4 linked regions of the Homo sapiens genome follow. The protein of the gene in region 2 interacts with the protein of the main gene of each other region in a pairwise test. Each region holds a gene or a part of one and is shown on either strand. Other genes may lie near its edges. The genes, in order: FBLIM1, ADAT3, CDA and SORBS3.

Region 1 (7,037 bases), on a different chromosome or scaffold from region 2:
AAAAAGGCTAAAGCAATACAAATTAAATGGATGCCGAACTACAAAGCCCATCATTGTTAACATGAGCTGGGGTGGGGATGGGAAGAGGGGTCCTCACTCTCTTGGTTTCTACCTGGAAGCCCATGCTGGCCCCATGAGATCACCCCAGTATCCTCTCAGCCCTGTGCACCTACCTGTGGATGCCCCTTTCTCAACAGGTTCTGCCGGGGGAGGTGGCAGCTCTTCCTCCATGGGCCTGAGGGGACCGGGCTGGACTGAAGGTCCCTCCGCTGGGGCCTGTGGGGATGCAGACGGGGAGTCATCCAGTGGGACCCCATGCAGCCCTCCCAGCTCTGTTCCTCATCTGGGTGGTAACAGGTACAATTAGCCGCATTGTACCGAGAAGGAAACCAAGGCCCAGGGAAGCAAGGGACCTGCGTAAGTCTCTCAGCAGGAAGGTCACAGTGGCAGCTGACTGGGGTCCCTCAATCAGCCACTGCTCCTTGTCCTACTTAGAAGGACTCTCCTGCAACCAGGCTTCCCCATGGATGCTGGACTGAAGTGGACTAAGCCCTTGGCCTGTGACGCCCCCCATTTCTACACAGCCTCTGTTAAGGGCCCAGGGTTAAAAAACAGGTTCCTGGCCAGGTGCAGTGGCTCAAACCTGTAATTCCAGCACTTTGGGAGGCCGAGCCATGCGGATCACGTGAGGTAAGTAGTCTGAGACCAGCCTGACCAACATGGTGAAACCCTGTCTCTATAAAAGCACAATAAATTAGCCAGGCATGGTGTGGGTGCCTGTAATCCCAGATACTCAGGAGACTATGGCAGGAGAATCGCTTGAACCTGGGAGGTGGAGGCTACAGTGAGCCAAGATCATGCCATTGCACTCCAGCCTGGGTGACAGAGCGAGACTCCATCTCAAAAACAAACAAACAAACAAAAATCCAGGTTTCCTATGCAGCCTAAGGGATTTAGGTCGGACTCAGGGAAACGTCTTCCTCAGAGCTGAAGGAGGTGTCTGCGGCAGGTGCAGCAGCGAGGCAGTGGCATCCCTCTCCAGGGACCCTGAAACACTTAACCAATTTTTACCTGCCTAAATAGGGACTTCTGAGAGCTTCAAAGAGGGACTGCCCCCGAGCAGAAGAATGCACCAGACAAAGTCCAGGTTTAGAACCCCTGAATGCCCAGAAGGCCCAGACTCCCCGTGCCCCAACCAAGGGGACCAAGGGATTGCTGGGGGTCGGGGGGCAGGCAGTACCTGTGGTGGGGGCGGGGGCGGGGACAGGTGCAGCTGCTCTAAGTCTGCAATGAGTGAGGCCCCCATTGGAGCAGGAGCCTCCTCTTCAGAAGGCAGAAGCACTGGAGGGGGCGGTGGAGGGGGTGGGAGGAGGTCCAGGTCAGGAAGCACGTCCTCACCATCCAGGACAGGAGGAGGGGGTGGGCATCCTGCAATGGGGGAGGAGAGAGGGCTGGTCAGAGCCTCCCAGGTGGACCTGGGAGGGTTTTACTTACCTACATGGCCATACAGAGGGAAGCTGAGGGCCCCGGTCGGGATCACCCCGGCCTGGGTTCCATGTCTAACTCTGCCACTGATTTGCTGTGTGTCCTTAGGCAAGAAACTTAATCTCAGGCCAGGCACGGTGGCTCATGCCTATAATCTCAGCACTTTGGGAGGCCGAGGTAGGCAGTTCGCTTGAACCCAGAAGTTCAAGAGCAGCCTGGGCAACATAGTGAGACCTCAACTCTACTAAAAATTAAAAAAAATGTAGCCAGGCATGGCAGCACAAGCCTGTAGTCCTAGCTACTTGGGAGGCTGACGTGGAAGGATCACTTAAGCCCAAGAGGTTGAGGCTGCAGTGAGCTTAGATCACATTACTGCACTCCAGCCTGGGTGACAGAGCCAGAACCTGTCTCAAAAAAAAAAAAAAAAGCCGGGTGCAGTGGCTCACACCTGTAATCCCAGCACTTTGGGGGACTGAGGCAGGCAGATCACCTGAGGTTGGAAGTTTGAGACCAGCCTGACCAACATGGAGAAACCCCATCTCTACGAAAAACACAAAATTAGCTGGGCGTGGTGGGCATGCCTGTAATCCCAGCTACTTAGGAGGCTGAGGCAGGATATTCACTTGAACCCAGGAGGCGGAGGTTGCAGTGAGCTGAGATTGCGCCACTGCACTCCAGCCCGGGCAACAAAAGCAAAACTCCATCTAAAAAAAAAAAAATTAGGCTGGGCGCGGTGGCTCACGCCTGTAATCCCAGCACTTTGGGAGGCTGAGGCGGGCAGATCACCTGAGGTCAGGAATTTGAGACCAGCCTGGCAACCCTGGTGAAACCCTGTCTCTACTAAAAATACAAAAATCAGCTGGGTGTGATGGTGGGCGCCTGTAATCCTAGCTACTTGGGAGGCTGAGGCAGGAGAACTGCTTGAACCTGGGGAGCAGAGGTTGCAGTGAGCCGAGATCGCACCACTGCACTCCTGCTTGGGTGACAGAGCGAGACTTCGTCTCAAAATATACACACACACACACATACACACACACACACAAATTAGCTGGGCCTGGTGGTGAGAGCTTGTGGTCCCAGCTCCTTGGGAGGCTGAGGTGGGAGGATTGCTTGAGCCAGGGAGGTTGAGGCTACAGTGAGCCGTGATCACACCACTGCACTGCACTGCACTGCAGCTTGGGTGACAGAATAAGACCCTGTCTCGAAAAAAAAAAATGCAAATTCTCAGGCTCCACGGCAGATCTGCTGAATCAGAGATACTTGGGGTGGGAGCCTGCGGCTGTGCTGGAATGGACCCAGTGACTGTGTTGGTACAGGCCCGGGTGATGCTGCTGCTGACTCAGCGGAAGTGAGAGAAAGAGGCTCCGATGAGCTCACGGAGTCAGGAACCAGGTCTTGGAGAGGCAGTAAGAGTGCTGTGGCCTCTCCCAGTGCCTGCCTCCCGGTGCAGGGCCCATAGGCTATGATGGGCGGGCAGGAATTCAAGAGAGAAGCAGGGGGACCCGAGGCCACAGGGCAGGTGGGCAGAAAGGGGGTCCTGGACCCGCTCGAGGATGACTCTGAGAGGACAAGTACTAAGCAGATGGCAGATGGCAGCCTTCGGTGTAGACGGCTTCAAGCAGCTGGCAGCATCCCCAGGGCCCGGGGCCAGCCTTTGTGTCCTGCAGTCAGACCAGGCGCATGACCAAGCTGGTCACCTAAAACTTATCTCACTTCAGGGAGACTGAACCCCAAGATCCCCGTGCTCTGCTTGAGGGTATTAAATTGGCAGACGAAACGGCCAGCCAGCCATGCTGACCAGTGACAGGACAGCCCTTCCCAGGCAAGTTTGATCTTGTTCCCACACTCCCAAGATCCTCTTCCCATAATCCCAATAACCCATGAAAATGTCCCGGAAATTCTGACATCTAGCCTCTATTTCCCGGGCTCCCTTGCCCACCCAGAAGGGGCACATCTTTTTGTTTCCCGTTGATGTGTGAATTTTGTCAGGATGAATAATGAATGAATGAATGACGCTGGAGCCTGCCCTTTCCTCCCCACCTCTGCCTCTGACGTGGTCTTCCCCAAAGTCCCCTCAGCTCTTACCTCCATTGAAGAGCTGCATAGGTGCAGCCGGCACTGTGGCTGCAGCTCTGCCAGGGGTTGTCCAGGGGCTGGGCCTCCCCGCCAAGCCAGCCTCGGGTGTCTTCATGGGGGCAGGAGCCTCCCAGGGGCGGCCACGCCGGGCCTCACAAACTGCCTGCCTCACTTCCTCCGCCACGGCCACATCGCGGCGCGGGGGTGCCAGGGTGATAAAGACAGACGATGCCACCCTCTTCTCAGGCTTTGAGGCCATGGCTTCAGCTCCTGGTGTGGCTAGGGACAGAGTGGGGTACAGCACAGGATTGCCACCCAGACACACAGCCACCCTCCCCCGAGAGGAGAGAGCCTCCCTCCTCCCAAAAAGACAGGCCAGCCACCCTACCATCTCAACAACTCAGTCCAGCACCCAGCCCAGCCAGAGAAGGGGTGGGGGTGTCCTGCTGGGGAAGACAGGACCCACCAGGGAACTTGGCCACAGGGGTGAGACCCAAAAGTCCTGACTGCCCCTCCCCCGAACCTGCACACCTAGGGGAGCAAAGGGCAGCCCTCACCAATGATCACTCTTCCTTGTCTCACACCCGCGAGGAAGGAACAGATGCTTCAGCTCCCAGCCCCAGCAGGGCTGACTTCCGTTCCCAGTCTGGAGTCCCGCCTGCCTGCTGGGCCACACCCCAAGTGACCTCCCTCACCTGGGATCAGATTCTCCTAGAAGGGCTGAAGTCCTGGAGGTTCAGGCCAGCTCTGCTTTGGGAGGGAAAGAGAACAGATCAGGATCTGCCAGGGCGTCAGGGCTAGGCTCCGGCGGCAGAGTGGGCAGGGCACAGTGAGAGCTGCCCTCACCAAGACCGGCTCTGCCCTGAGCATGTTATACTCATTAACTCATAAACACTCACACGTTATGCTCATTAACTCATAAACACTCACAAGGTGGCTGCAGGGCAGGCACTATCATCACCCACCTAACACATCAAGAAATCGAGACTCAGAGAGAAGTCACCTGTCCAGGGTCACACGGTGGTGAGGTGGCACTGGAACCCAGAGCCCATGCTCTTGGCCACTTTGCTCTGCTCTGACCTTTCTCAGCCCTGCACATGAGCCAGCACCCTCCTTGCTTGCTTTCTAGTGCCAGACTCTCTCACTCCACCCAATCTCCAAAACCTGGGTCCTGGTTCAGGCCTGGGCAGTGGGCAGGGGGCAAGGGGAGAGATGGGGAGGCTCCATGGCCTCTGGTCTCACCTCCTAACCCTGATCTTTCTAGAGCATCAATCTCTTTCTCCTTTACTCAAAAACCTTCCATGGGCCGGGCATGGTGGCTCACAGCTGTAATCCCAGCATTTTGGGAGGCCGAGGCAGGTGGATCACTTGAGGCCAGGAGTTTGAGACCACCCTGCCAACATGGTGAAACCCCATCTCTACTAAAAATACAAAAATTAGCCATGCGTGGTGGTGGGCACCTGTAATCCCAGCTACTTGGGAGGGTGAGGCAGGAGAATCGCTTGAACCTGGGAGGCCGAGGTTGTGGTGAGCCAAGATTGCACCACTGCCCTCCAGTCTGGGCAACAGAGCGAGACTCTGTCTTTTTTTATTTATTTTTATTTTTTGAGACGGAATCTTGCTCTGTTGCCCAGGCCGGAGTGCAGTGGCACGATCTTGGCTCACTGCAAGCTCCACTTCCCAGGTTCACGCCATTCTCCTGCCTCAGCCTCCCGAGTAGCTGGGACTACAGGTGCCCGCCACCACGCCCGGCTAATTTTGTTTTTGTATTTTTAGTAGTGATGGGGTTTCACCATGTTAACCAGGATGGTCTTGATCTCCTGACCTCGTGATCCGCCCACCTCAGCCTCCCAAAGTGCTGGGATTACAGGCGTGAGCCATCGCACCCCGGTGAGACTCTGTCCCAGCACTTTGGGAGGCAGAGGCAGGTGGATCACCTGAGGTCTGGAGTTCGAGACCAGCCTGGCCAACATGGTAAAACCCCATCTCTACTAAAAATACAAAAATTAGCTGGGTGTGCTGGCGGGCGCCTGTAATCCCAGCTACTTGGGAGGCTGAGGCAGGAGAATCACTTGAACCCGTGGGAGTGGAGGTTGCAGTGAGGTGAGATGGCACCATTGCACTCTAGCCTGGGCAACAAGAGCGAAACTCTGTCTAAAAAAAAAAAAAGAAAAAAAGTATGGCTCTCCACCACCTCAGGATGAAGTCCAACTGCGGCAGCCTCAGCCTCTTTGAGCCCCTGGACCACTCGCCCTTCCTATGTCCTCTCTCTTGCCTTGCAGTGTTTCTTCTATGGTTTTCCTGTCCTGCCCCCACAGGGTGAATTTCAGCTTTCTCTTAGAGGCCCAGCTCAAACATCACCTCTTCCACAAGGCACCCCCCGATTCCTGGCCCTCTCCAGGGGCAGTTTCCTGCTGCCAAGGGTGGACGAAAGCGATGATAGCCCCAGGGCAGGACAGGCTGGCTCACAAGCTCACTATCAATGCGTCTGACCGGTGTCTGCATTCTTTGTGTGCCTAGAGGATATCAGAGCGCAGGCATCAAAACCCAGATCTGGCCACCCGATGGCTCACGCCTGTAATCACAGCACTTTGGGAGGTAGGCGATCACTTGAGGTCAGGAGTTCAAGACCATCCTGGCCAACATGGTGAAACACTGTCTCTACTAAAAATACAAAAATTTGGCCTGGCGTGGAGGCTTATGCCTGTAATCTTAGCATTTTTGGAGGGCAAGGTGGTTGGATCACGAGGTAAGGAGTTCAAGACCAGCCTGGCCAAGATGGTGAAACCCTGTCTCTACTAAAAATACAAAAATTAGCTGGGCATGGTGGCAGACGCCTGTTATCTCAGCTACTCGGGAGGCTGAGACAGAGAATTGCTTGAACCCGGGAGGCGGAGGTTGCAGTAAGCCGAGATTGCACCACCACACTCCAGCCTGGGCAACAGAGCAAGAGTCTGTCTCAAAAAAAAAAAAAAAAAAAAACAAATTAGCCAGAAATGGTGGCATGCACCTGTAGTCCCCAGCTACTTAGGAGGCTGAGGCAGGAGAATCGCTTGAATCCTGGGAGGCGAGGTTGCAGTGAGCTGAGATTGTGCCACTGCACTCCAGCCGAGGTGACAGAGTGAAACTCTGTCTCGAAAAAAAAAAAAAGAAAAGCATAAATCAGAGAGCATGGTGGCACCCTGATACCCTGATGTCAGGAAAAGGACATTATTTCCCATCTCTCAGGTAGTTCCTGCTGACAGTAGTCCCTGTGGCCAAGGCTGAGGTGGGGCCATGGGTGGGAAAGCTGGGAGTCCAGTGAGCACATCAGTCCTCAGCAGGCACCCAATGCCTGTGCCCAGGGCTAAAAATGTCCCCTTTTCTATCTCGCTCTTCAGGCTTCCCTCCTTATCTCAAAGTGCACTGGCCACTTTGGGTTCACAGCGACTGATGGATGATAATAAAAACAATAACACGTGCTCCTAAATTCCCTT
Region 2 (5,586 bases):
GTGTTCTGTCCACTGCATGAGCTCCCCACGCAGAGCCCCCACCTGCCGGATCCCCTCCCCTATGGGCTGGGGGCTCACAGCAGGCGTGTCTGGAGGCAAAGCTGCACCCACATGGTCAGGCAATGGACACTTGCCGGGTGGACCCACAGGTCCTGCTCCAAGTTCTGCAAAAACGGCTCTAGTCCTCACTGTGCTGTGACCGACTAGCATCAGCCCTTTGGGGTCCCCTGTTGCCACTTGTGAAGGACACGAAATCCCAGGGCCCTTCCTTAGGGTCGGTGCCCTGTGGACTACGCCTAGTGTCCACACACTTGGGCCAGGCACGCCTGGAACCATCAGGACTCCAGAAGCGGGAAAGGAGGCAGCAGCTGGGGGCCTTGCTCTACCCCAGAATCAGCCCAGGTCTCTGACCACACGTGGCTCAGCAGGTCCCCTCCGGCTGAGCCACCAGGCCCTGTACAGACCCCACCCCACTCGGGACCCTGGCCACAAAGGCACACACCTCCTAACAGACACCCACTTGGTTTTGGGCTGTTTATTTTCCCATCAGAGCAGTTTCCCGGCCCGCGAGACAGAGGGGACACAAACGCAGCAAGGGCGGCCGCAGAAGGGCACCGCTGGCACGGGGTGGCCCCAATGACCGAGTCCAGGAAAGCTCGATCCGCACGGAAGGCAGCACCCGTGCTCCCCGCTGGAGGCGGTATGTGTCCCTGAAATCCACGGTCAGGCTTGTGCGGAAGAAATCGAGGCCCGGAAGTCCAGGAGGGGCGCCCCACGGCCGGGAGCGGGAAGGGTCCGGAGGCAGGAGGGCGGCGCCTACGTGTCGGGGTCCAGCCAGCGGCACTGCTCCTCCAGCACCCCGCGGAACACCTGGAAGCGGTGGTTGAGGTCGGGCCGTGCGTGGATGCGGAAGCGGGTGCCCAGGGCGCCGTCGGGCGAGGGCGCACCGTAGAAGACGCGCAGGATGCGTGCGTGCACCAGGGCCATGGCGCACATGGCGCAGGGCTCGCGGGTCACGTACAGGTCGTAGCCAGTGCACAGGTAGGGGAGGCCGTCCTCGTCTGCGTCCAGTTTACGCACGGCGCCTGCGCGGACGGCCTGGGGGGCAGCGGCCGGGGCGAAGGAGCAGGCGGGGAAGGGTCTGAAGTCGTAGGTGCCGCGGCCCTGGCCGCGCGCCACGAGGTCCACGCACACCATGACGGCGTGCAGGAGGGGGTTGTCCGCGCAGCTGCAGTCGTGGCCGGTGGCCAGCACGCGGTCCGAGGCCGGGTCCACTACCACGGCCCCCACGGCCCGCAAGCCCCGCGCTGCTGCCCGCCGGGCCGCCCACACCGCCCGCTCCATGTGGCTCTGCATGGCGGCGCGCTCCTGCGTGGAGAAGAGCCGCCCAGCCAGGGCGCTGGTCACCTGCTTGTCCTCGTGGAAGGACGTGGGCCAGTGGGCCCGGGCCTCCTCGAACTGGCCCCTGGTCAGAGGCGGCCGGGCGGGCACGGGCACCAGGAAGGGTTGCCCCAGGCCGCGGGGGTCCACAGCCGGCCGTGGCAGGAGCTCAGCCAGCGAGCGCGGGCCCGAGGCCGGCCCAGCCAGGCAAAGCAGCATCTCCAGGGCGTGGGGGCTGCCGGCATCGCGGCTGGGCCGCACCCGCTTGAGGTGAGGCTGGGCGGGGAGCGGGTGCAGGGCCGACACCTCCTTCAGGAGGCGTGAGGTCTGGCGCTTGTCCAGGACGGGCGCGGCGTAGGCCAGCACCAGCTCCACGTCCCCTGACTGCTTCTCGGACAGGACAGGGAGGGCCTGCCACGGCGCCGGCTCAGGCTCCGGGCTCCCGGCCTCCAAGCACTTGGGCTGCTCCACGAGGCCCGGGGCGGGCTCCATCCTCAGCGAGGCCGACTGTGGGAGACAGAGACGGGAGCAGAGGATCATCCGGCGGCTGCGGGCGGCTGGGGGAGAGCCGGGGAGTCCGTCCCGGGAGGCCGTGGCTCCACAAGGCAGGGCGTGCTGCCACCAAAGCTGAGGCTAGTCCGAGGGCTCCGGCCCAGGTCACCGCATCAGAGCTACACTCCCTCATGTCCTGCTAACCCCTGGTGTGCACAGAGTTTAAACAGCCATTGGTTTTTAAAAACGAAGATATAATTCACCTACCAGAAGACAGATCATTTTCTTTTTTTTTTATTTTATTTTTTTACTTCTGAGACGGAGTCTCGCTGTCGCCCAGGCTGGAGTACAGTGGCATGATCTCAGCTCACTGCAACCTCCGCCTCCCGGGTTCAAGCTATTCTCATGCCTCAGCCTCCAGAGTAACTGGGATTACAGGCATGCGCCACCACGCCCGACTAATTTTTGTGTATTTTTAGTAGAGATGGGATTTCACCACGTCGTTCAGGCTGGTCTCGAACTCCTAACCTCACGTGATCCACCCGCTTCAACCTGGTGGTGGGATTACAGGTGTGAGTCACTGCGCCCAGCCAAGACAGGTCATTTTCAAAAGCACAATTCATGGCTAGGTACCAGCGGCTCACGCCTGTAATCCCAGCACTATGGGAGGCCGAGGTGGGGGGATCACTTGAGCCCAGGAGTTTAAGACCAGCCTAGGCAACATAACAACACCCCATTTCTACTAAATATCAAAAAATTAGCTGGGCGTGGTGGCACACACCGGTGGTTTCAGCTACTCGAGAAGCTGAAACAGGAGGAGCACTTGAGGCCGGAAATTCAAGGCTGCAGTGAGCTACAATCGTGCCACTGTACCCCAGCCTGGCTGACAGAGCAAGATGCCATCTCAAAAAAAAAATGAAAACCCGGGCACGGTGGCTCACGCCTGTAATCCTAGCACTTTGGGAGGCCGAGGCAGGCGGATCACAAGGTCAGGAGATCAAGACCATCCTGGCTAACACGGTGAAACCCCGTCTCTACTAAAAATACAAAGAATTGGCCAGGCCTGGTGGCACGCACCTGTAGTCCCAGCTACTAGGGAGGCTGAGGCTTGCAGGAGAACCCAGAAGGTTGAACCTGGGAGGCGCAGGTTACATTGAGCCGAGATCGCGCCACTGCACTCCAGCCTGGTAACAGCGCGAGACTGTCAAAAAACAACAAAAAAGCCAGGCGTGGTGGCTTAAGCCTGTAATCCCAGCACTTTGGGAGGCTGAGGCGGGCAGATCATGAGGCCACGAGATCGAGACCAGCCTGACCAACATGGTGAAACCCCATCTCTACTAAAAATACAAAAATTAGCTGGGCATGGTGCCACGCACCTGTAATCCCAGCTACTCAGGAAGCTGAGGCAAGAGAATTGCTTGAACCTGGGAGGCAGAGGTTGCAGTGAGCCGAGATCGTGCCACTGCACTCCAGCCTGGTGACAGAGCGAGACTCTGTCTCAAAAAAAAAAAAAAAAAAAAGACACCTCAAAAACCAAAAACTATCAAGTGTCCTATTCAGTGGCTCTTAGGACACTTGGAGTTGTGCAACCATCACCACTATAAAATTCCAGAACATTCCATCACCCCTAAGAGAAAACTTGTCTCACCACCCTACAACACACACAGCAACCCAGGCAACCACTGATGTGATCTCTGCATCTCCAGAAGCCAGAGCCTGGAAGCAGAAGCGGGGACAGGCGGCGCCTGGCTTCCAGACAGAAGGGCCATGTGGCCAGGAACTGAGCAGGACCCTTGGTCCCCCGGCCGCAAGCTGCTGAATTCCGCCAACGCCTGCGTGAGTTGCAAGCAGATGCCACCCCCGTTGAGCCTCCAGATGACAACACAGCCCTGGCTGACACCTGGGTTCCAGCCCGGTGAGACCCCGCAGAGAGGAGCCAGCCATGTCACATTCAGGCCCCGACCCACAGAACCGGGAGCTGGCGGGTGTTGTATTAAGCCCACAGATGCACGGAGTCTGCTATGCAGTGACAGAAAGCAAGCATGCCAAGTGTGGGGGACACGGGGCCCCCTCCCAGAACAGCACACAGCCTGGCACTGACACGGAACACCCACCTCCAGTGGTTTCTGTAAACACTCGCCCCCTAGTCGGCCAAGGGCTAGGAAAAGAGAGACCTCAGAAGACAAGCCACGAAACGTAAGCCCCGGAGCGCAGCCCCTCCCCTGGTGGGCCCGACTTCCCATCCCTTGACCACATTCCTGCAGCTGTGGTGGGCCCTGGCTGTCGGGTGGAGCAGGCAGCCACTGGGGTGTCCCTGCTTACTCAGTCACAGAGGAGGCCCTGGCTGGAGTGGGGCTGCGGGAAGAGCTGGGATCACTCCCGGGGCTCCTGCTAACATCCCTGACTGCCGGGCAGTGTGCCAAGGCGGCTCTCGGGTGAGAACCTCCCGGCCTGACATCACCAGCACTGTTACCATCCCTGCCGCTGGCACAGGTGAGGACATCCCTGCTGCTGGCACAGGTGAAGACATCCCAGCCACTGGCACAGGTGAGGACGGGAGGCAGTAAAGCCGTTACCATCCCTGCTGCTGGCACAGGTGAGGACAGGAGATAGTAGAGCCATTACCATCCCTGCTGCTGGCACAGGTGGACATGAGGCAGTAGGGCCACTCCACTGGAGAGGAAGGGCTGGTGGGGCCCCCAGCTCTCGGGATCCGCCCATTAGAAGGGAGCCTGCCCTAGGCGGGCAGACAGCACAGCAGAGAGGCAGGCGTGGGGACAGCCAGCCTGCAGGGACTGCTCACAGGGCCCTGGGGGACAGCGCCTCTGGCTCCCACATCTCTGGCATCCACCCCACCTGAACACCCCCAAACCACAGTCTCAGCTGGCCAGCCTTCCCCCACCTGCATCTGCCCCCACAGACTCGCACCGCAGGCCTGAGGTTGGATTACAGGCGTAAGCCACCATGCCCAGCCCACATTTTTTTTTTTTTCAGACAGAGTCTCACTCTGTTGCCCAGGCTGGAGTGCAGTGGCATGATCTCAGCTCACTGCAACCTCCACTTCCCAGGTTCAAGCGATTCTCCTGCCTCAGCCCCCCTAGTAGCTGGGAATACAGGCACATGCCACCACGCCCGGCTAATTTTTGTATTTTCAGTAGAGACGGGGTTCCACCATGTTGGCCAGGCTGGTCTTGGAACTCCTGACCTCAGGTGATCCACCTGCCTCAGCCTCCCAAAGTGCTGGGATTACAGGTGTGAGCCACCGTGCCCAGCCCACATTGCTTAAAAGTATAAATTAGTTGGGCACGGTGGTGTGCACATGTAGTCCCAGCTACTCAGGAGACCAAGGCGAGAGGATCACTTAAGCACAGGAGTTTGAGACCAACGTGGGCAAGATAGAGAGACCCTGTTCCTTTTTTCAAATAAATAAATAATAATAAAATCCTAAAAACCTTACTACCTGTGTGCTCACAGTTATTTCTAGCAGACAGTACTGCCTCAGATGGTGCTGGGGCTAAGCCGCAGATGATCTTAAAATGACTCCAGCCGGGTGATCCTGAACTGCCAGCCTGGACTACACATCCCCGCTGGTATGGACGGCTCCTCCCGCAGACAGGGATGTGTCTCTGGATCATTTCGCAGCCGCGCAGCTGTGGGTGCTACTCCTCGACATGCACTGCCTGGTCCACGCCTCAGCCGCCGGGGCGCCCCACA
Region 3 (7,000 bases), on a different chromosome or scaffold from region 2:
CTTTACTTACTCAGAAACAAATTAAGCTGGGTCTCCTTGGGGCCAGACTGAGGCAAAGTGTAGGATCTTATAAAAGGCACGTGGGCTTGCTTCTGTGCAGTCCCCACTGGCCTTGCACTAAACCCAGCTTTCAGTATTCCTTTTTTGTTATTCAAACAATACAGAACCTATAAGTAAGCCAAGAGAATCCAATGGTACAACACTGTGATAATTACTTGCCGGTGAAGACCTTTCCAAACTGTTCTCAATGCTTTTTTGTTTTGTGTTGTTTTTGAGACAGGGTCTCACTCTGTCCCCCAGGCTGGAGTGCAATGGCATAATCATGGCTCATTCCAGCCTCGAACTCCCAGGCTCAAGTGATCCTCCTGCCTCAGCCTCCCAAATAGCTGGGACTATGGGCATGCCACCATCAGCAAAAAAAAATTTTTTTTTTTTTTGAGACGGAGTCTTGCTCTGTCGCCCAGGCTGGAGTGCAGTGGCGCCATCTCGGCTCACTGCAAGCTCTGCCTCCCAGGTTCACACCATTCTCCTGCCTCAGCCTCCCAAGTAGCTGGGACTACAAGCATCCGCCACCACGCTCAGCTAATTTTTTTGTATTTTTAGTAGAGACGGGGTTTCACTGTGTTAGCCAGGATGGTTTCGATCTCCTGACCTCGTGATCTGCCCATCTTGGCCTCCCAAAGTGCTGGGATTACAGGCGTGAGCCACCGCGCCTGGCTCAGGTTCCCCCCGCTTTATGTTTCAATGCTGCCTTTCTGTTATATCTTGTAGGACAGGAGTCTGTATCACGTTGTGTTGCTGGAACAGGGGCATACTGGCCCTTGTATGAGAGTTGCCTTGCTTATTTACCTGCTTTGCAGGCTCACTGAGGGCAAACTCCATTTCTTATTTATCTCCTTATCCTCAGCACTCATCCCAGGGCCCTGTACAGTGCCTGGCACATAGGAAGTCCACAATAAACATATGTCAGATGAATGAATGAATGAATAATATGTGTAAGGAAGATGTTGGCTAAAGAGATGAATGAATATTGTTGCAACCTGGCTTTCCCACTCACCTGGCGATAGCAATTGCCCTGAAATCCTTGTACCCTTCTGAGACGGCCTTCTGGATAGCGGTCCGTTCAGCACAGATGCCCAGCGGGTAGCAGGCATTTTCTATGTTGCACCCTGAGAAGAGAGCAGAGTCCAGTGGTATGTCTGGCAGAGACACTTCCTGTTGCGTGTGTTGAGTAAGAAGTTTGCCCCATTCCAAAGCAGGAAGGAACTGGTTACTCCAAACAAGGTGGGGAGAAGGACAGGGCAATTAGGGCAATTCGACCTGGGGCACTGGTAGATTCTTTGGCCCATGGTAGTGGCCCTTCCCAAGAACCTGGCACTGTCTTAATTTACCCAATGCCTCCATGATGAAGCACAGCCTGGGAGCAGGGCAGCACAACAGGCAGATTAGGCAGCTCCATCACCCCTGCAGAGGTCAAGGCCAGGGTAGATCCCGAGGCTTACAAAAATAAGTAGAGCCCCCACACCTGCATCTAAGAGATCTAAGAGCCCCATGGTCTGAATGTGTCCCATCAAATTCATATGTTGAAATCCTAGCCCCCAAAGTGATGGTATTAGGAAGTGGGGCCTTTGGAGGAATGATTAGATAATGAGAATGGAATGAAGGGGACCAAGCCTAGGAATGGGAGTCATGCACTTATAAAACCAGAGAACTGCCTTGCCCCATCTGCCGCATGAGGACATAGCAAGGAGTCACCGTCTATGACTAAGCAGGCCCTCACTGAATCTGCCAGTGCCTTGAACCCTGGACTTTCCAGTCTCCAGAACTGTGAGCAATACATTTCTGTTATTTACAAGCTACCCAGTCTATGGTATTCTGTTATAGCAGCCTGAATGGACTAAGACAGATCCTGATTCCAAGTTTGAGCCTGGACAAAATTTTGGGGGTTAGGTACTGGCTGTCAGAGTTCAGCCAGGGTTCTGTGTCAGTTGTGTTGCAAAACAAACACACTGTCAAAACCAACTAACAACGAAATCAATTAACAAACAAACAAAAAAAACACCTCGAGCTTTGTGCGAGTTGCCTGTGATTTCACAAGACTTAAAACAATCCTCGGGCCTCCAGTGGGATGTGGGCTCCTAAGATGGCCCAGCTCTCAGTAAGGGAGTCCTTCCTGTTGGCTCTCTCAGGGTTGTTGCTGGGGGACAATAAGCCAAGGCTGCTCCTAGGAGGCAAGATGTTGGCATAACCAGATTGGCTAAGAAAGTCCCCATATTCAGGGAAGTGAGTCTACGAACAAATCACTATGGGAGCTGGGTTTTCCCCTGACCAGCAAGATGTGGTATTCCATCTGTATCACTGTTTGTAAATTGCCTTTTTCCCTGAGGCGGAGATAGGAGTTGTTCCCCAGTATTCATTTCCTATTTCTTCCTTTAAGTAATACAAGTGCCTCCCATTCCAGCATGGCCGCTCAGCTAGGGACTGTAATTCCCAGACTCCCTTGCAGCACAGTGTGGCCACATGATGCAGTTCTGGCCAATGGGATGTGGCCCAAGGTGATGTGGGAAATTTCTGGATCATACTTTTGGTAAGGAGGTTGCTTGCCTGTTACTTCCATTCTTTTCTCCTTCCACAGACTGGAAGGTGGAGGTGATGGGGTGGGACACTTTTGACTGCGTGGCCAAGGGAATGGAGGAGCAGCAAGGAGAGAGAAGGAATTTGGAAACCTGGTCAACTCATGGGGCAGAGTTGCCCGTTTGCCTGGGGCCTACTCTGAATTGTTGTGTGAGAGAAAAAGAGAATTCCACCATGTTTATATCACTGCATCTTGGAATCTGTTTGTTATAGTAGCATAACCTATGTCTAATACAGACATTTGTGCTGAAGGTGAGATGCAACTTGAACAAAAAAAATCTAAAGTATGTGACATTGGCTTAGTGGTTGAGCAACGCAAAGGAGAAAACACAGATGAGGCAAGATGGCCAGATGGTGACTCCTCCTAGTCTGTTATTTGGTAAAGCTCCACCTGCAATAACCAGGAAGGCAGGCCGTGGTACCCACCACTGAAATTTCTCTCCCTGGCAATGGGAATCAGCCCTGTGGCAAAGATGTGATGTGTCATCTGCCCACACAGCCTGTTGTTTCAGGCACCACAATAGCCAGCATTAAGATGGGGCAGCAGGAATGGGCCAGGCATGGGAGCCAGTTAGGAAAATGCCAGAGTTGGCAGGCTTCAGAACCATGTCCAGAAGGGATCTCTGGGTGTGGCATTTCTGTATGGAAATAATTGGAAGCAAATAGATCAGGATGTTTCCAACTTTTGATAGAATTGGATCGCCAAAGAAGCCACAAGCCTGGCCTATAAAAACACATGATGAGGCTGGGCATGGTGGCTCAAGCCTATAATCCCAGCACTTTGGGAGGCCAAAGCGGGCGGATCACAAGGTCAGGAGTTTGAGATCAGCCTGGCCAATATGGTGAAACCCTGTCTACTAAAAATACAAAAATTAGCCTGGCATGGTGGCAGCCACCTGTAGTCCCAGCTACTCAGTAGTCTGAGGCAGAAGAATTGCTTGAACCTGGGAGGCAGAGGTTGCAGTGAGCCGAGATCATGCCACTGCGCTCCAGCCTGGGCGACAGAGTGAGACTCCATTTCAAAACACAACGAAAAAAAAAAAACCATGATGTGGGTGTGATGATGTGTGTCAGTTTGAACATGCAGATGAGGACACAACTCTAGGGATGGTGGGACATCTAGACAGAAGGAATCTGGTCTCCAGGACAACTTTGCAGGACAGAGAAACACATCTCCTATGCTGTGGACTCCAGCCCGCCCCTGGTCTGTTAGATGAGGGAAATAAGCCACCACATCTTGTTTGAGTCACTGTATACTTATTGATTTCATCAACTTAGCCTTCCCTCCCCTCCCCTCCCCTCCCCTCCCCTCCTTTCTCCTCCTCTCCCCTCTCCTTTCTTTTTGACAGGATCTTACTCTGTTGCCCAGGCTGGTGTGCAGTGGCATGATCATAGCTCACTGTAACCTCAAAGTCTTGGGCTCCACTGATCTTCTCATCCTAACCTACCAAGTAGTTGGTACCACAGGTATACATCACCACACCTGGCTAATTTTTTGTATTTTTTTGTAGAGATGGGGTTGCCCAGGCCAGTCTCAAACTCTTGGGCTCAAGTGATCCACCTACCTTGGCCTCTCAAGGTGCTGGGATTATAGGTGTGAGCCACGGTGCCCAGCCTACACCTCCTTTTATAAGTCCAAGTCTTCATTGTGATTATGCAGTATTTTGTTCCGTGTTGATCACATTTGGGAATTATTTGGTCATTATCTTCTTGTATATTTTTCCTCACATATTTTCTGGTCCCTTCATTATTTACATTGGCATGTTAGGAGTGATTAGTCATTTAACTCGTTCTCAGGATCGCAGGCATTCATGTCCAGAGTTGACGGATGTCATTAGACACTACTGGGTGCCACAGCTGCAGGTCCCTTGTCAGGGTGAGGGTGAATGTGGTCACAGTGGTGCATGGGATGGCTGTATGGTGTTAGATGGGGGCTGGTTTGGAATTCTACTTTGGGGAAGAAAACAGGCTTGTATACTGAGCACCAAAGGGTAGACTATAGTGAGCATCTACTGTTTTGACAACTTAACACCTCTTACATTTTTTCCCCTGAGGAATGACTCTTACTTTATTCCCCAGCATGTAGTTCAAATGGGAGCTGCCATCTTGTCTCCTATGACCTTGCTATGGGCATAAAGATGAACACCTGACTCAAACTGGCCAATCAGAGTTCATCTCTGTGTGGGAACTTCAGTTTCTCTCTTGAGACACTGAGTGTGGGCCGCCATGTTTCCATTCATTATGGAAGAGACCAATGAGAGAGGCTGAAATGGACACTCAGAAGAATGGATGAGAGAAGAGAGATGGAAAGAAAGGAGTCTGGCCAGTGCCAGTTGCCCCTGAGGTCTGGCTACACTCCAGGTCTTCCCACGGTTTAGTTATAGGAATCCATACATCCTCCTTTTGTCTAAAATAGTTCATGTGTATTTTTATCATTTGAAACCATACAGAGATCAGTTAATACAGTTGGAATATGGGGCAGGGTACAATCAGGAAGTTGCAACCCTGAGAGCTTTTGTTTATTTAAATGTTAGTTATTATAGCTGAGATAACTGGCCCCTTATTGCTCAGTCTCTCTGCTGAGTCAATGAAAGTTGAATGTATAAATGAATAATGCCTCTTGCTCCCCACCTTGTCTCCCCAGCCAGGTTCCTGATCCTCACCTGAAATGACTTTCTTTTTCTTCTCTTTTCTTTTTTTTTTTTTTTTGAGACAGAGTCTCACTCTGTCATGCAGGTTGGAGTGTAGTGGCACAATCTCAGCTCACTGCAATCTCCACCTCCTGGGTTCAAGTGATTCTCATCTCAGCCTCCCTAATAGCTGGGATTACAGGTGTGCATCACCATGCCTGGCTAATTTTTTAATTTTTAGTGAAGATGGGGTTTCACCATGTTGTTCAGGCTGGTCTTGAACTCCTGACCTCAAGTGATCCGCCCAGCTCGGCCTCCCAAAATCTTGGGATTACAGGTGTGAGCTAAGATGCCCAGCCCCTGAAAATGACTTTCTTTAAACACCACTCTCACCTGCCATATCTGCTCACCACTCCCACCTTCACTGACATCCCTACACTTGGTTTCTGCCTCTCTCCCAGATTACAGTCCCTGCCAGCCTCACTCCCAGCCTAGTGACTCTCCCAGCCCCGCCCTTCCAGCTTCCCTGCCCGATCCCTGACTAAAGTCTGACACTTTTCCCATCAAAAGTGATGCATGCAGATCTTGGGTTTTGCTGACATGCCGTTAAAGCACATTTCCACACTTGCAGAAGACCCAGTCTCTCAGGATGGTCACATGTGTCTGCTCTGGAAGTTCAGAAAGGCCTCAGAGACAGAAATCTTCCTTTACTTTGTGTAAAACATGTAATAGGCCAGTTAATGAGAAAGAAAGATGGTTGTGGCAGGGGGCACACTCACATGCCCCACTACTCAAACAGCACCCTGTAGAAAGAGGTTCCATTAGGTTTCATTCTGCCCTGGGACTCTTTGCCCAACTGGCTCTGAGAATTGGGGAAAGGGACTGAACCTCTTTGAGGCTCACTGGCTTCATTTGTAAATCGCTAATGATAGAATCTCCCTCATAGTCCTGTTGTGAGAATAAATTGAGATCACTCGTGTAAAGCACTTAACACAAAGCCTGGCACAGAGGAAATGGTCGGCAGCTGTTAGCTGCTGCTGTTATCAATTGCATAAAAATCAAGGCTTTGGTGGCAGTAGGGCTATGTGACCCTCTGCACCTTCTCAACAAGGTATGACAGTGGTCCTGTCCCTGTCCTTCAGGCACTTTGAAATCCTTTATTTTTATTTTATTTTATTTTGTTTTATTTTATTTTATTTTATTTTATTTTATTTTGGAGACGGAGTCTTGCTCTGTCGCCCAGGCTGGAGTGCAGTGGCGTAATTTCGGCTCACTGCAACCTCTGCCTCCTGGGTTCAGGCGATTCTCCTGCCTCAGCCTCCCAAGTAGGTAGGACTACAGGTGCGTGCCACCACGCCCGGCTAATTTTTGTATTTTTGGTAGAGATGGGGTTTCACCATATTGGTCAGGCTGGTCTTGAACTCCTGACCTTGTGATCCACCCGCCTCAGCCTCCCAAAGTGCTGGGATTACAGGTGTGAGCCACCACGCCTGGCCTGAAATCCTTCTTATGACTACAAGGTCATATGTGATCTGGTGCCAAGGTCATATGTGATCTGGTGCTACCTCTTGGCTCGCATCTCCTTTTGTTCTCTAGACCTGTTGTCCTTCCAGCTGCTCCCCTCAGGGCACCAGTATGCTCCTGCCACAGGGCCTTTGCACAAGCTGTTCCCATTGCCTGGAACTCTCTTTCCCTTTTGCGCACTATTCACCCTACTCAGGGCTCTGCTCAAATGT
Region 4 (7,037 bases), on a different chromosome or scaffold from region 2:
GCCCACTCCATATATCCCTATGGAAAATTCTTCTTCCAGGGAGCGTTCCCAGACTCCTCCCCATCCTCCAGCACCCTTTGGCTGTGCCCACCCGTGGCTGCCCCCAGGGCTTGTGTCTGGTGTTTATATCTTTTCTCTGCCTAGGGGCGGGCCCACCTTCTCTTTGCTGTCTCACAGGAACCCCCAGCCTGTGCTATGTTGATGCCCAGGCCAAATCTTTCTCATGACCTTTCTTCATGCAGGTGCTGCCCGCAGATGAGATCCCTAAGCCCATCAAGCCCCCGACCTACCAGGTGCTGGAGTATGGAGAGGCTGTGGCCCAGTACACCTTCAAGGGGGACCTGGAGGTGGAGCTGTCCTTCCGCAAGGTGGGCCAGGCCGGAGACGGAGGGGTGGGTGGGGGCAGGTGAAGATGTAGGTAAATATGTGCACTAAAAACAGTTTTTTTTTTTTGAGACAGAGTCTCACTCTATCGCCAGGCTGTAGCGCAGTGGTGCCATCTCGGCTCACTGCAACCTCCGCCTCCCGGGTTCAAGCAATTCTCCTGCCTCAGCTTCCCGAGTAGCTGGGACTACAGGCACGCGCCACAACACCCAGCTAATTTTTGTATTTTTAGTAGAGACAGGGTTTCACGATGTTGGCCAGGATGGTCTCAGTCTCTTGACCTCATAATCCACCCGCCTCAGCCTCCTAAAGTGTTGGGATTACAGGCGTGAGCCACCGCGCCTGGCCTAAAAACACTTCTTTAAAAAAGAGTCCGATGTACCTAGCTTCACCCAGGATTTCAAAGTTTTCCCCAGTCTCTTTCATTATGCTTCCTTTAGTGTAGTGGCTTTTTTTTGCTTTTTTTTGAGACAGCATCTCACTATGTTGCCCGGGCTGACCTTGAACTCCTGGGCTCAAGCGATCCCCTGTCCCTGCCCCAGCCTCCCAAGTAATTTTGGTCCATTTTTAAAAGATCATCATAAACTTCTAGAGTTACATATATATTTTTTCAACTGCAGGTTGCAGGGGATCATACTCAGCATTTTTAAAGGTATAGACAGAAATGTTAGCATGCGTTGCGAGCAGAAAGCACTTTATCATACCGTAGGCAGTTCTGTGTATGCACATATATATGTATTCTGGGCTGTTATTAAAACATTTTTAACTGTAGATTGTGGTGAAACAAGTTTGAAAAATGCTGTTCTAGAAAGCAGGGAAGTGGTCTGCCTTTGGTTGATTTTGGGAGCAGTGATCATGCTCCCAAAATAAGCGAAAGACGGCCCATAGTGAATGCCTCCCAGAAGAGCTGGCCCCAGGGACAGAGGGGGAAGAAGGTGGCTGGATGGAGACAGATGGGGGCAGGAGAGGACAGGGGAAGGCAAGGGCTGGAGGCCACCCTCCCAGGGGGTGGTTCTACCTAATGTCAGCCAGCCTGTGGCCTTCAGGACTCCCTGCCTGTCCTGGGGAGTGTGTTTTTGACACGCTCATGACAAGGTCCCCCAGCGTGAGGCAGGAACAGGACCCAGGCAGGGCAGTAGTGGTAGCACCTGTCCAGTGTGTCTAAGGAGTGGACTGTTGATCTCGTTCACACCTCATAGTGACAGTATGGTTATTTTCACTTAACATAGGAGAAAACAAGGCTCAGAGAGACAGAGCAGGCTGCCTGAGGCCACACAGCTTGGCCTGGTGGAGCTGGGTTTGGATCTGTATTATTAGCCACGGGCTCACCTGTGATCGGAGCTCTGGGGAGGGACCTTGCTATGAACGCCGAAGGGGGATGCACACCCGTTGAGCTTCCAAGAGGCAGGACCCAGTCTCAGCCTCAGCCTTGCCTGGGCAGCCTGGGCTTGGCTCCTGGCTCCTGCTCTTACCGTGTGACTCGGGTAAACTGCTGGCCCCCTGCGATTCCGACCCCTCGTGTGTCCAAGGTGTTAGGGTTGAATGAGACAGCCCAGATAAGGCACCCGTGGGTCCATGGCACCAGGAAGGCCCCACAGACACTGACTTTTCCCCCCTCAGGGAGAGCACATCTGCCTGATCCGCAAGGTGAACGAGAACTGGTACGAGGGACGCATCACGGGCACGGGGCGCCAAGGCATATTCCCTGCCAGCTACGTGCAGGTGTCTCGTGAACCCCGGCTCCGGCTCTGTGACGACGGCCCCCAGCTCCCCACGTCTCCCCGCCTGACCGCTGCCGCCCGCTCAGCCCGTCACCCCAGCTCCCCCTCAGCCCTGCGCAGCCCAGCTGACCCCATCGACTTGGGGGGACAGACCTCCCCCCGTCGCACTGGCTTCTCCTTCCCCACCCAGGAGCCTAGACCCCAGACCCAGGTGAGGTAGCCTGCCTCCACCAGAGAGTCGACCTCCTCCTCACCCCTCATCCCCCACCCCCGTGACTTGTCCACACTTGGGACTCCTTCCCAGACAGCCCTGGGACATAGGAGTGGGGTGACAGGGCAGAAGCTAGTATGGCAGCCCCACCCTGGCCTGGGGGACCTCAACCTACCGAGCTCTAGCCGAGGGAGCTCTAGATGGAATCCCAAAGCCGGCCCAGGCTCCTGACCCTGGGTGTTCTTGGTTCATCCATGCTGGCGTCCAGAAACCCAGGCACTGACCTTACTTGGGCCTCAGTTTTCTGGCCCCTGTGAAATGAAATAGTCACAGCAGGTGTCCCTGTGCCCTGGGGGTTTGGAGGCTAAGATGAAGCCGTTTGTAAGGCGTGCTGGCAGGTGGACTGGGAACGCCCATTTTGGGCCTCCTCCCTCAGGCTTACATGTACCCATCGTCTTCCTCCCTCTGACATCCCTTTCTTCCTGTCAACTCCCAGAATCTTGGCACCCCTGGTCCAGCTCTGTCCCACTCTCGAGGTCCCAGCCATCCCCTGGACCTGGGGACCTCCTCTCCTAACACCTCTCAGATACACTGGACCCCGTGAGTACCATCTGAGGGCTCTTGATCAGACGTGGGGGGGGTCACTGGCAGGCAATGCCCCATATTCCACCCTCCCCCAAGTCCCCACCTGTGGATTTGGGAAACTTCTACCAGGTAGCCCTTGTCCTCGAAGAGCTTATGGTGATTTGGGGCAGGGAGGAGGCGCTGGTCTGTGATGTTCCCAATCCCTCCTGGCAGCTATGTGGCCTTGTGGCCTTGGTCTCCTCATTGGGTTTCTAGCCCTGAGGTCGGTGCATGTATAATTGAAGTGTGGAACTGGTGGAATGGACAGGAAGGCACCAGGTGCTCAGAGGAGGCGAGGGTTCAGTGCTTAGGGCCCAGAGGGCAGGAGGCAGGCCTGGGAAAGACTACGGTGAGCACAGGCTGAGTTGCTCTGAGGAGCTGGATCAGGGGCTAGTGAGAGCATGAAGGGACCCTGGGGCATTCACAGGAAGCGGCAACACTTGGGTTAGAGCCTCTGGGCCCATTCTCTGGTTGCCATGATACGCTTCTCGCAGGTACCGGGCGATGTACCAGTACAGGCCCCAGAACGAAGACGAGCTGGAGCTGCGCGAGGGGGACAGGGTGGATGTCATGCAGCAGTGTGACGATGGCTGGTTTGTGGGTATGTGGGCAGGCCGGGAGGGGGCATCTCAGGGCCCCAGGGGATGTGGGTGGGGTGCTGTTGCCTGCCAGTGCTGCTTCAGCAAAGATTCATGGCCGACCACCCCCCGACTCAGCTTCCGGCCGGGCTACTGGGGGGGCCTGGCACCCGATGCTTCCCCAAAGCCAGCCCTTCTGTTGGCTGCCTTCCTTCATGAAGAGGCCAAGGCCCAGGAGGAAACTGGCACCAGTCCAGGGTCACTGATGGAGTCAGTGGGGACCCAGGCCAGGGTTCCCAACGTCCAGAGCTCTGCCTCTTCCTCCTGCACACCCCTGCCTCGAGCAGCCCTGGGGGAGAGCTCCTGGTGGAAAGGACCAGGGCTCACACTTGACCTAGCTGGCTCCTCCAGCCTGGGAGGAAGAGGGAATGGAGAAAGGTCCCAGCCCCTCAGGGCTGGCCCAAGGGCAGCTCTGACCAAGGACAAATGCAGGAAGCCTCAGGTTGGCCTCAGCCTGAATCAAGGTGACCAACCCACCAGGCTTCACATGGCCTCTTTCCCCAGAGTGGGCGGGCCCTGTGCAGGTCTCATCTTCAAAGGATGGGCCGTCCCCAGAGAGAAGAGAGTGGCCAGAAGCCCCCTGCCCTGCCCCAAGCAGGCTTTGAAGCCTGAGGAGTTGGGGGGCTGCTTGGGCAGCCCCTTGACCTGGCAGCCCACCCTTCCTGATCTGATCCCAGTACAGCTGCCAGCCAGCTGTACTGACCCACCCAGGACCATTAAGCACTAGCCTGTGAATGGCCCCTACCTTCTAGTGGGGGAGGGAGGGAGGCGGTGCTTGGAGATGCATTCAAATTTACTGGATACACTTTTGCTTTGGAATTTTTTTACAACTACTAATAAAGTTTTGCAAACCTATGCAGACAAGAAGAAAAAGTACCACTTTTGTATTAGGAGCCACAAGCGCTTTGAGAGGAATGGGCGAGACCTGTGCCCTTTCCGGTATGGCAGCCACCGGCGGCATTCAGCTGTTGAAATGTAGCTCAAATGAAATAAATTAAAAATCCAGTTCCTCAGTTGCACAGGCACATCTCAAGTGCCCAACAGCCACAGGTGGCGAGTGGTGCCCATTTTAGTTAGTGCAGGTCAGGGAAGGCTTCCTGGAGGAAATGAGGGAGCTGGGCCTGGAAGGGCAGGGGAAGGATTTGGGGAGGCCAAGAGGAAAGGGAGGTACTCGGGGCAGAGGACGAGGGTGGGGGTGGGACGAGCACGGGCTGCCCCCAAGGAAGTCAGGGTGCCAGCCTGGAAGGGGAGGCCCAGGATCATCCATTCACCCAAGGTCAGGAGTGACGTTCATTTCAGTTTATATTCCTATTTTTCTATATATAGGAATATAATAATATTTATTACATTTCTGTATTTCTATATTTCTCCATTCCCTCTTCCTCCCAGGCTGGAGGAACCAGCTGGGGGGTGTGGGGATACACAGGTGTGAGCCCTGGTCCTTTCCACCAGGCGCTCTCCCCAAGGGCTGCTCCAGAGGCAGGGGTGTGCAGGGAAAAGGGGCAGGGCTCTGAAGGTCGGCAACCCCGGCCTGGGTCCCCAGTGACTCCATCAGTGACCCTGGGGTGGTGCCAGTTTCCTCCAGGGCGTCCTTCTCTTCATGGCACGAAGGAAAGCAGCCAACAGAAGTGCTGGCTTTGGGGAAGCATCGGGTGCCAGGCCCCCCAGATGCTTTGCCCGCTGGGGTTCCCCCCCCTCCTCCTCTTCAAGACACGAGTTTCTGTGGGGCTGAGAGGCCTGGATCGGAGTCCCAAGCTTACTCCTAAGCGTCGGGGTGCTCTCGGGCAATGCATTCAGCCTTCCCATAGGCCTTCCCACCCATCTCTAAGTGAGGGTGCCCTATTAGACCAGGGACGTTTCTCCCGATTTCAGTTCTGTGATTCCTCCTCCTGTGTCCCCACTTTGCGGAGGAGGGGGGGAGTGACTCTGCTGTGTACAGTGTGATGCACATTTGTTGATTGCTCAGATTCTTTGGTGGTTGAGTGTGGGAAGTGTAGCTTTGCCCATCTAAGCTTCTGCCGCTAGGGGGCAGGAAGGAGGAGAGCAAATCCAATTCCCTCTCTGGGCTCCCCTACAGAACTCCCCTACAGTTCTGGGCACTGCCGGCAGGGGGCAGGCCCTCACCCCTGCATCCCTGTTAAAGAAGGGAGTGGGGAAAGCTCTTCCTGCCTTTCCTCTTTCAGGTGTCTCCCGGAGGACCCAGAAATTCGGAACGTTCCCTGGAAATTACGTTGCCCCGGTGTGAGTGGTCTCCATGGCAACTTGGAGCCAGCCAGGATGGGGTGGGGAGCGGTGGCACTCGTGGGAGGGAGAGGACCCCCGCCCACATCCTCCTTCCCCAGGACCTGAGCTCCCAGCATCTGCAGACGACCCCCGCAGCCTTTCCCTCGGACCCCCCTCGAAGCCCCCTGGACTGATTCCCACCCACGACTCACAGGCATTCCTCCCACAGCCCTTTCATTTCCTCCCCACCCCACTCCCCAAATACAGAGGTCTGCTTTGAAGCGGAGACCATTTCCAGGCCTTATTGAGACCAGACCCCAAGTCCCCCACCCCCATCCTGCTCCAGCGTTTCCTCTAACAGGGACCAGCTCTCCGCTTTGCCCCCACGGGGTTCCTCTAACCAGAACCAGCTTCCTAGCCTCGTAGAGACCAAAGGCCGCCCCCGCCTGCTGGGGTTCCTCCCAGCACCCCAGCTTGCTGGCTGCCCTCTTTGCCTTCTGGCCTCCAGCTGGGTGTGGGGGGGCGGAGCAAGGCGGGGGACAGACGCAGCACCTTCTTAGCGATCTAGGCCTGGCAAGAGCTCTGGCCCCAAGGCCTCCTCTTCCCAGGGGCTGCCAAGTCCTGGCCCTGGCCCTGGCATATCACCCCGCACTGTGGGGCCAGGCACCACTAGCCTGGCTCAAATATTCCCCAGGGAGACTGCTGTGTGCTGCCCGCCTGCCTGCTGGCTCTCCCCCAGCCCCACATCCCCTCTGGAAGAGAATGTAAAATAAACCTGGACACAAGGGACCTTGTCTCTGCGGCCTTTTCCTTGGGGTAGGGGATGCCTCCTCCTGTCTAGGAGATGGGAATTCCTTCTGTGGAGGGCTGTGCTGGGAGACAGGTGGGACAGGTGTGTGTGTAAGAGGAGGAGGATGGAAAAACACCATTATTACCTCCAAAGATCTCTGCCCTTGGGTGTCAGGCAGGTTGCGGCAGCCCCCACAATTGGGCAGCTGTGTGGCAAGAAGTGCTGGGAGAATGAACAGTGCCAGGCCCTGGTAGCAGGGAGACACCAGAGATGGGGGACTGAATGTGGCCTTGTTTGCAGACTGTTTTGATTCTGGAGCTGCCACCGTGGGGTTGCTGGGCTAGATGACATTTCTAACTATTCTGCTGTTTTCCTTCTGTGTGCTCTGTTTCCACACCGAAGCCCTTGTGTGTGTGTGTGTGTGTGTGTGTGTGTGTTTATTCTCC

What was found.
Region 1: the proteins of ADAT3 (region 2) and FBLIM1 interact in binary tests that used the Homo sapiens proteins (3 or more experiments, as listed by UniProt).
Region 3: the proteins of ADAT3 (region 2) and CDA interact in binary tests that used the Homo sapiens proteins (3 or more experiments, as listed by UniProt).
Region 4: the proteins of ADAT3 (region 2) and SORBS3 interact in binary tests that used the Homo sapiens proteins (3 or more experiments, as listed by UniProt).

The regions. Positions count from the first base shown.
Region 1 is NC_000001.11:15,761,767-15,768,803, reverse strand, and holds part of FBLIM1 (filamin-binding LIM protein 1), read right to left. Parts: intron 4,312-7,037; exon of another isoform or gene 4,309-4,311; 5' UTR 4,119-4,308; intron 3,841-4,118; 5' UTR 3,821-3,840; coding exon 3,571-3,820; intron 1,429-3,570; coding exon 1,241-1,428; intron 277-1,240; coding exon 174-276; intron 1-173. UniProt on the Homo sapiens protein: Serves as an anchoring site for cell-ECM adhesion proteins and filamin-containing actin filaments. Is implicated in cell shape modulation (spreading) and motility.
Region 2 is NC_000019.10:1,908,382-1,913,967, reverse strand, and holds the end of ADAT3 (probable inactive tRNA-specific adenosine deaminase-like protein 3), read right to left. Parts: intron 2,079-5,586; 5' UTR 1,921-2,078; coding exon 817-1,920; 3' UTR 521-816; downstream 1-520.
Region 3 is NC_000001.11:20,599,097-20,606,096, reverse strand, and holds part of CDA (cytidine deaminase), read right to left. Parts: intron 1,170-7,000; coding exon 1,058-1,169; intron 1-1,057. UniProt on the Homo sapiens protein: This enzyme scavenges exogenous and endogenous cytidine and 2'-deoxycytidine for UMP synthesis.
Region 4 is NC_000008.11:22,568,906-22,575,942, forward strand, and holds the end of SORBS3 (vinexin), read left to right. Parts: intron 1-242; coding exon 243-368; intron 369-2,004; coding exon 2,005-2,316; intron 2,317-2,812; coding exon 2,813-2,916; intron 2,917-3,434; coding exon 3,435-3,541; intron 3,542-5,761; coding exon 5,762-5,823; 3' UTR 5,824-6,883; downstream 6,884-7,037. UniProt on the Homo sapiens protein: Vinexin alpha isoform promotes up-regulation of actin stress fiber formation. Vinexin beta isoform plays a role in cell spreading and enhances the activation of JNK/SAPK in response to EGF stimulation by using its third SH3 domain.